Homo sapiens: one gene and its partner. The protein of the gene in region 1 purifies or fractionates together with the protein of each later gene. This does not show direct contact. Each region holds a gene or a part of one and is shown on either strand. Other genes may lie near its edges.

Region 1 (3,653 bases):
ACCTTCATGAGCGTGAGCCTGGGCCACAATCCCATAGGTCTCTGTTGGCAAAGCCCCAGGTAGATCATGTTTTGGGGGTGCAGGGGAGTGAGAAACAGGGCCAGCTTGGCTGTCGCAATACAGTAAGAACTCCCAGCCATTGCATGCACTGACTACTATGTCTCATCCTCATACTGCCAACACATCTGTTATTCTCCCCATTTTACAAACAGGACAACTGAGACTCACAGAAATGAGGTAACTTCCTAAAGGCAAGGCAACTAATAGCAAAACTGGAATCTGAACCTGAGATCTGGCAAACACAAAGCTCCAGCCGTTTCTCCTTTGCTGTGCTGCCCACACGCTTCTAGACTAGCCCCCAAGAGAACTATCAACTCTCAAGGTAAAAAGGTGGGAAACCTGGCTGGGCGCCGTGGCTCACGCCTGTAATCCCAGCACTTTGGGAGGCCAAGGCGGGCGGATCACCTGAGGTCAGGAATTCGAGACCAGCCTGGCCAACATGGCAAAACCCCATCTCTACTAAAAATACAAAAATTAGCTGGGCGTGGTGGCGTGTGCCTGTACTTCCAGCTACTTGGGAGACTGAGGAAGGAGGATCACTTGAACCTGGAAGGCAGAGGTTGCAGTGAACCAAGATCGCGCCACTGCAATCCAGCCTGGGCAACAGAGTAAGACCTCATCTCAAAAAAAAAAAAAAAAAAGATGGGAATGGGAAACCCTCTCCTCTGTTCCCACAGAACCTCTGGAGTACTACACTTCCCAGATGCCCCTCCCAGCCACATACCTTTGGCGCCACCCCTGCCTGGGGTCTTGGAATCTGAAGGGCTCCGCCCCCAGGTGAGAATGTTCCCCTCTGAGTCTCCAGTGAGAATGTCTCCATCCGGAAGGAACACAAAGCAAGGGATAAACTTGGGTTTCTTGTATTTCTAGTGGGAGGGGAGAGCAGACAGTAGAGGTCAAAGGGAAGGGCAAAGATTAAAAGTCGCAGGGCAGGCCAGGTGCAGTGGCTCATGCCTGTAATCCCAGCACTTTGGGAGGCCAAGGCGGGCGGGTCACCTGAGGCCAGGAGTTTGTGACCAGCCTGGCCAATATGGTGAAATCCCGCACTGCACTCCAGCCTGGGTGATAGAGCAAGGCACTGTCTCAAAAACAAAAAAAACAAAAAAAAAACGGGCATGATGGCCAACATGATGAAACCGTATCTCTATTAAAAATACAAAAATCAGCCGGCGCGCATCTGTAATCCCAGCTACTCCGGGAGGCTGAGGCAGGAGAATTGCTCGAACCCAGGAGGCAGACGTTGCAGTGAGCCGAGATCTTGCCATTGCACTCTGGCCTGGGTGACAAGAGCAAGACTCCGTCTCAAAAGAAAAAAAAAAAAAGGTCACAGGGGCAGGTGGGGGTTAGGGAACCTCAGGGTCCATAGTACTCAGCCCAGTGCTTCCTCTTCCACTCTGCCCTCCCCATCACCTTCCACTTATCCATGCCTCACCCCAAAGACACCCTGTTTCCGGGTAAGGGTCCCATTCCCAGGAACCCCTACTCCACCACTCCAATTCCAGAAGTGGACGTGAGATTTCCCACTGGTGACGATGCAGCTGCTGTCACGAGGGTTGAAGCCAACGGCCAGGACTGAGTCATTTGTACTCTGAAGGGAAGACACTAGATTCAGCCACCCCAAGCCCTGGGTACCTTCATTCTACTTGACTCTCCTCAATTTGCATCATGACAGCTGGCTGGCAGAGGTCCAGAAACCCCAGGACAACCCTTCTTTCAAAACCCTGGTCCCCTAAGAGCACTATTTCCTGTCAATCATAATTAATCACCCTAATACCTAACACATTATGCCTCATGAGGTCAGAACCCATGTCACAAATGAAGAAACTAAGGGTCAGAGAAGCTAGGAGATTTGCCCCATGTGACCCAGCCAAAAAGGAAGGAAATGTATGGGTGAGTCTGGAGCTCCCTGCACTCCACCACTCCCACCCCCAACCTCAGAGCCCCTCCAAGCCACATGGACTCCTCACCTTGATCTCAGCCAGCTTCATTCCCCGGCTGCAGTCCCACACCGACAGCATGTGCTCATTGGAATCATCCACCACACAAAGAAAGGCACCCTGATCCTGAAGAAGGGTGACACATAGGAGGTGCAGAGTGAACCCTGGAGGTCCAGGGGTTCATGGTCATTAGGTTAAGAGGTACCATCACAGATGGAGAGGGCAGAAAAAGTTGACACACATGGCCCTTTCTCAAGAGAACCAGCTGGGTGGGGTTCAGGAAGGCCAGAACTTCCAAGGCTTCCTGGTGACATGCAAGAGTGGGGTTCCTAGGCAAGAATGGGGGTCTAGAGGCTTCAGGGCCAGCTCACCGCAGCTGAAAAGGCCAGGGCCCCAACACCCCGCTCGAAGGCCCCCAGTCCAATCTCCTGCAGTTTCAACAGCGTCTCTGAGTCCCAGATGTGAACCACAGGCTGCAGGGGCTGGTGGAGGAAGAGTCACAAGTGTGAAGCAAAATTGGAGTGCAATTCCAGCATGTCTGCCTGCTCCCTGACTTTGGCCTTACCTTTCCATCCTTATCCACTCCAGCTGTCTGTCCCGAGGCTACCCGAACACCATCAGGGTGAACAGCAAGGCTAAGGCAGGGGGAAGACACTCTAGGGAAAGGGTCTCTCAAGACCATCCAAGACACCTTCTCCAAGCTTGCAGAGCAGCAAGGCAACTCTTTTCTCCTGCTTCTCCATCCCCCCAGACCCTCTTCCTGCCAAGCCCACCAGCCCCGGACTCCTCACCATCGAACGCAGTCTGTGTGCCCCCGGTAATGTCTCTGGCCGCCACCTCCAGGACCCCCTGGGCCTCCTCCAGGCCGGTACAGCACCACCACACAGGCGATAAAGTAGACCACCTCCCCAGAGCGCAACACAAACAGATTAGAGCGGGAGTCACGACCCCTGTACCCATAACTGGGGTGGAGATCACGGTCAAGGAAAGGGTTAGATCAAGGGCAGGAGGAGGAAGAGGGGAGAAAGACAGAGCTTCTGGCTGGCAGGGCCTAGAGCAGAATGATGGTAGGAGAGGATCTAGAAGGCTCCTTGTCCCCACAGACCCAGGAGGAAACTGTAAAGGTAAGAGGGGTCCCAAGGTGAGAAAGGTGGTTCTCATGGGACTGGAAGGGGCAGGATACACCCAGTCAAGGCTGAGGGTCTCTGGCGGTGGGCCACTCGGCAGCTCCTCAAGGCTGCGGATGCCAGACGGGATGTACATGGTAATGGGGCGCCCTCGAAGGAACATCTTCACTGAGATGCCTTCTACAGAGAAAAGGGGTGGTGTCAACTACCCCCTTCCAGGAAAGACAGAGCAGAACCCTACCCACCACACCTACCCAAAATAGCTCCTGGGGCTACAGCCCAAATCCTAACCCTGCCATCCAAGTTTTCCTCTCTGTCCCTCTTTACATACCCAAATTGTAATTGCTCCTCCGAGATCCAGGGCCCCCAGGGCTGGAGAGGGGGTCTTTTCCCCCACGGCTGTTGGGAAGAGAGAAAGCACAGGGATTGGGGTCAGGTCCCAAGACCTAAGCGGGGAGGGGCAGGACACAAGAAAAGAGGTCACTGCAGAAACCACAGTCACTTCTGCAAGCCTGTAGTTTGCTTCGTG
Region 2 (3,653 bases), on another chromosome or scaffold:
GTAGGTAGTTATCTATACGCCAGGAATAAGTAATAGGTAACACCTTCCTGGAATAGTAATTTTGCCAGTGAATAACTTTAAAAATCTATTTCATATTAAAATACAGATGTATTTACAGAATAGAATGCAAAAGTTCCATGAACATAACACTGGTCCGTGAACTTTTAAGATAAGACACAATATTTCAAAGAAATTTCATGTTCGTAGAGGAGCCTGTGGGTTATAACTCCAGTCTCTCCAGGACTACCTAGTTCCTATCATCTGTCCTTAGACTACTTTTTTTTCCCCTTTGTTGAGATAGGGTCTTGCTCTGTTCCCCAGGCTGGAGTGCAGTGGTGTGATCTCAGCTCACTGCAACCTCTGCCTCCCAGGTTCAAGTGTTTCTCGTGCCTCAGCCTCCCAAGTAGCTGGGATTACAGGAGTACACCACTACAACCAGCTAATTTTTTTTTTTTTTTTTGACACAGTCTTGCTCTGTTGCCCAGGCTGGAGTGCAGTGGCGTAATCTTGGCTCACTTCAAGCTCCACCTCCCAGGTTCAAGCGATTCTCCTGCCTCAGCCGCCTGAGTAGCTGGGACTACAGGCACATGCCACCATGCCTGGCTAATTTTTGTGTTTTTAGTAGAGATGGGGTTTCACCATGTTGGCCAGGCTGGTCTTGAACTCCTGACCTCAAGTGATCTGCCCACCTCAGCCTCTCAAAATGCTGGGATTACAGGCGTGAGCCACCATGCCCGGCCCTTAGACTGCATTTAGTAATGACGAAAAAGAACATGCAGGTCATCCTAAGGGACTTTCTTATGTAACATCATCTGAATACAAATAAATTATTTGTTACTTTTTCAAAATATTGGGTTAGACTAACTGAATTGTTAGCAGTATATTTAGTCTAAATTGTTAGTAGTATATCTTCTTGAAGCTATGAGTATTGATGAGGCCAGATAATCATAGAAAACTGTTTAGCTAAGAGAAGAAATCTTCAATTTTACAGGAAACTATCTGAAAATACCTTATGAAAATTTTACTAGATCTTAATCTTAGTTTAGAAATTCATTTTACTTAAAAAACTCTGGTGCATCTCCATTATTAACTAAATGGCTTTAACGTTTTTTATTTCTCCATCAGCCAGAGAATAACCAAAAAGCACTCTCTACCAAAGCCAAGAACAAAATCAATCCCTAACACTAAAAAAGTCACTAGCACATTATTTTGAAAAAACATATTAGGTTTTATTAACATTTAATACAGTACTAATATTCATAAACAATTACTATCCCAACACATTAAATGCATTTAATAATTATGGTACTGAAATATGTAAGTACATGTATTCCAGAAATTTCTCATTCAATAAACTACATTTCCATCAAATAGTTTAAATATGGAAACAATTTCACTATGTAAGAACTTAGAGCAATTATACATTTTACAGTTATATTTTGCTTTAGAATTTTTCAGCATGCTTCTCATTTACTACTATTTCATCTGATTCTCACAGCAACCTGGTAAGGTAGTTAGGTCTGATATTATTACTATCTAAGAGATAAAGGGGGGCCGGGCACATGGCTCAAGCCTGTAATCCCAGCACTTTGGGAGGCCGAGGTGGGTGGATCACAAGGTCAGGATATCGAGACCATCCTGGCTAACATGGTGAAACCCCGTCTCCACTAAAAATACAAAAAATTAGCCAGGCGTCAAGGAAAAAAAAAAAAAGAGAGAGCGATAAAGGGTCTAAAGATCAAAGAAGATCCAAGACTTTTTTTTTTTTTTGAGACAGAGTCTCGCTCTGTCACCCAGGCTGGAGTGCAGTGGCGTGATCTGGGCTCACTGCCAGCTCCGCCTCCCGGGTTCACGCCATTCTCCTGCCTCAGCCTCCCGAGTGGCTGGGACTACAGGCGCCCGCCACCACGCACGGCTAATTTTTTGTATTTTTAGTAGAGACGGGGTTTCACCGTGTTAGCCAGGATGGTCTTGATCTCCTGACCTCGTGATCCACCTGCTTCGGCCTCCCAAAGTGCTGGGATTACAGGCGTGAGCCACCACGCCCAGCTGAAGATCCAAGACTTAACCAGTCACTTAGCTAGTAAGAGACAGATATCATTCTTATTAAAGTATTTCAGGAAAAAAAAAAGAGAGAGAGAGAGAGACAAAACCCAGGTCCTCCTGCCTCAGTCTTTGTGATCTTTCAATCAGATGACATTTGAGGAGCATTTCATAGCTGAAGAGAACAAGGAAACCATCTAGTTCAACTACTTTATTTTACAGATCAACCCAGTGAAGTTAGATGGTTCCCAGGGTTTATACAGAATTGCTAAGAGAACTAAGCCTAGAATCCAGGTCTCTGGACTCTCTCCTTTGAACAATTACTCTCAAAAATAAAGACAAAACCATCTAGCATTTCCTTGCCTGATGTCAGTTTTTAAAGAAAGAAATCATCACTGATGAGAAAAAAAGAATTCATTTCCAAATAACAAAAGAGTAAAGACACTATTTTCAAGCTGACAAAAAACAGGATGCACAACATATAATTAGCAATCAGCCGTTCTAGTTCATTTCTTGCTCAGCAGCTGCTGGGTGACACTCTCTTTACCCAGTTAAATTCCAAATGCTTCTGATGATCTTGGGTATATCTCATGGAGAACAGTATAGGACAGGGATCTGCCTTGGTATATCACACAAGTTTATTTAAAAATTAGCCTGAATTAGTTGGAATGACCTGTCAGGTTCCTGTTTTCCCTACTAGCCATGTGACTGAGCATTGGCTCATAGTATTTTTAACTATACCAGTTTTAAAATTAGATTGTAGTATATAAAATTCATACTTCGGAGGCTAAGGCGGCACAAGAGTTACAAACTGTTTGGGCTTTAGAGTTGGAAAATATAAAATGAAATCCCACCTCTAGCACTTACAAGCCATGGGACTTTGGGCAAGTGATTTAATATCTGAAACCCTATTCCTTCATTTGTAAAATGAGATGGTAATACCTACCCCTAGGGTGAGTCAGATATGCACAACAATTACTAGCACAGTACCTGGCCCATAAAAGGTAGTTATTACCATCACAGAATACGCCTCTCCCATTCTGATTCAGCAGCAATATCTACACTAAGATGATAGAACTAACTAAAAAAAAAACAAAAAACAAACAAAAAACTTGTGCTTAAAAAGACTTTTAAAACAGTGTTTTCATAATGAAATATTTCAGGCATACATGTAAGTGTAAATTATATAATAAACAGTGATGCACCCACAACTGAGCTTTGAAAAAATAAATCAAGATAATTTATTTAAATCTGCTCTTAAAATGAGACTTGGGATCTTGAAAAACAAAGATTTGCAATGTTATTTTCTGTTCAGCTTTCTAAGAATATTCAACACAATATATTCAGCAGCCTTACTATACATTTCAAGTATTTTGTCAGGCAATTACTAAGTAGTGTTTCTTAATACTTTGTGAGCACTACCTGTATTCTCTCAAGCCAACCTTTTCCTAATTCCCTTTGTTAAGTGCTTATGAGTTAACATCCTTTCTCAGGTTATACACTCAACGCCTGTACAGCTATTCATTAAAAACTCTTCTTCCTTTCATTTGAAGTTATCCTAAAATTTACACTGATTTTCTTCACATATTGTTAGGAGGAGTGGGATGTGG

The links.
Region 2: the proteins of EML3 (region 1) and KLHL12 purify together in Homo sapiens (co-immunoprecipitation; one large-scale study listed by IntAct). This does not show direct contact.

What each region holds. Positions count from the first base shown.
Region 1 is NC_000011.10:62,606,174-62,609,826, forward strand, and holds part of EML3 (echinoderm microtubule-associated protein-like 3), read right to left. Parts: intron 3,524-3,653; coding exon 3,456-3,523; intron 3,305-3,455; coding exon 3,181-3,304; intron 2,960-3,180; coding exon 2,789-2,959; intron 2,633-2,788; coding exon 2,563-2,632; intron 2,480-2,562; coding exon 2,369-2,479; intron 2,124-2,368; coding exon 2,028-2,123; intron 1,649-2,027; coding exon 1,493-1,648; intron 927-1,492; coding exon 785-926; intron 42-784; coding exon 1-41. UniProt on the Homo sapiens protein: Regulates mitotic spindle assembly, microtubule (MT)-kinetochore attachment and chromosome separation via recruitment of HAUS augmin-like complex and TUBG1 to the existing MTs and promoting MT-based MT nucleation.
Region 2 is NC_000001.11:202,920,735-202,924,387, forward strand, and holds part of KLHL12 (kelch-like protein 12), read right to left. Parts: intron 1-3,653. UniProt on the Homo sapiens protein: Substrate-specific adapter of a BCR (BTB-CUL3-RBX1) E3 ubiquitin ligase complex that acts as a negative regulator of Wnt signaling pathway and ER-Golgi transport.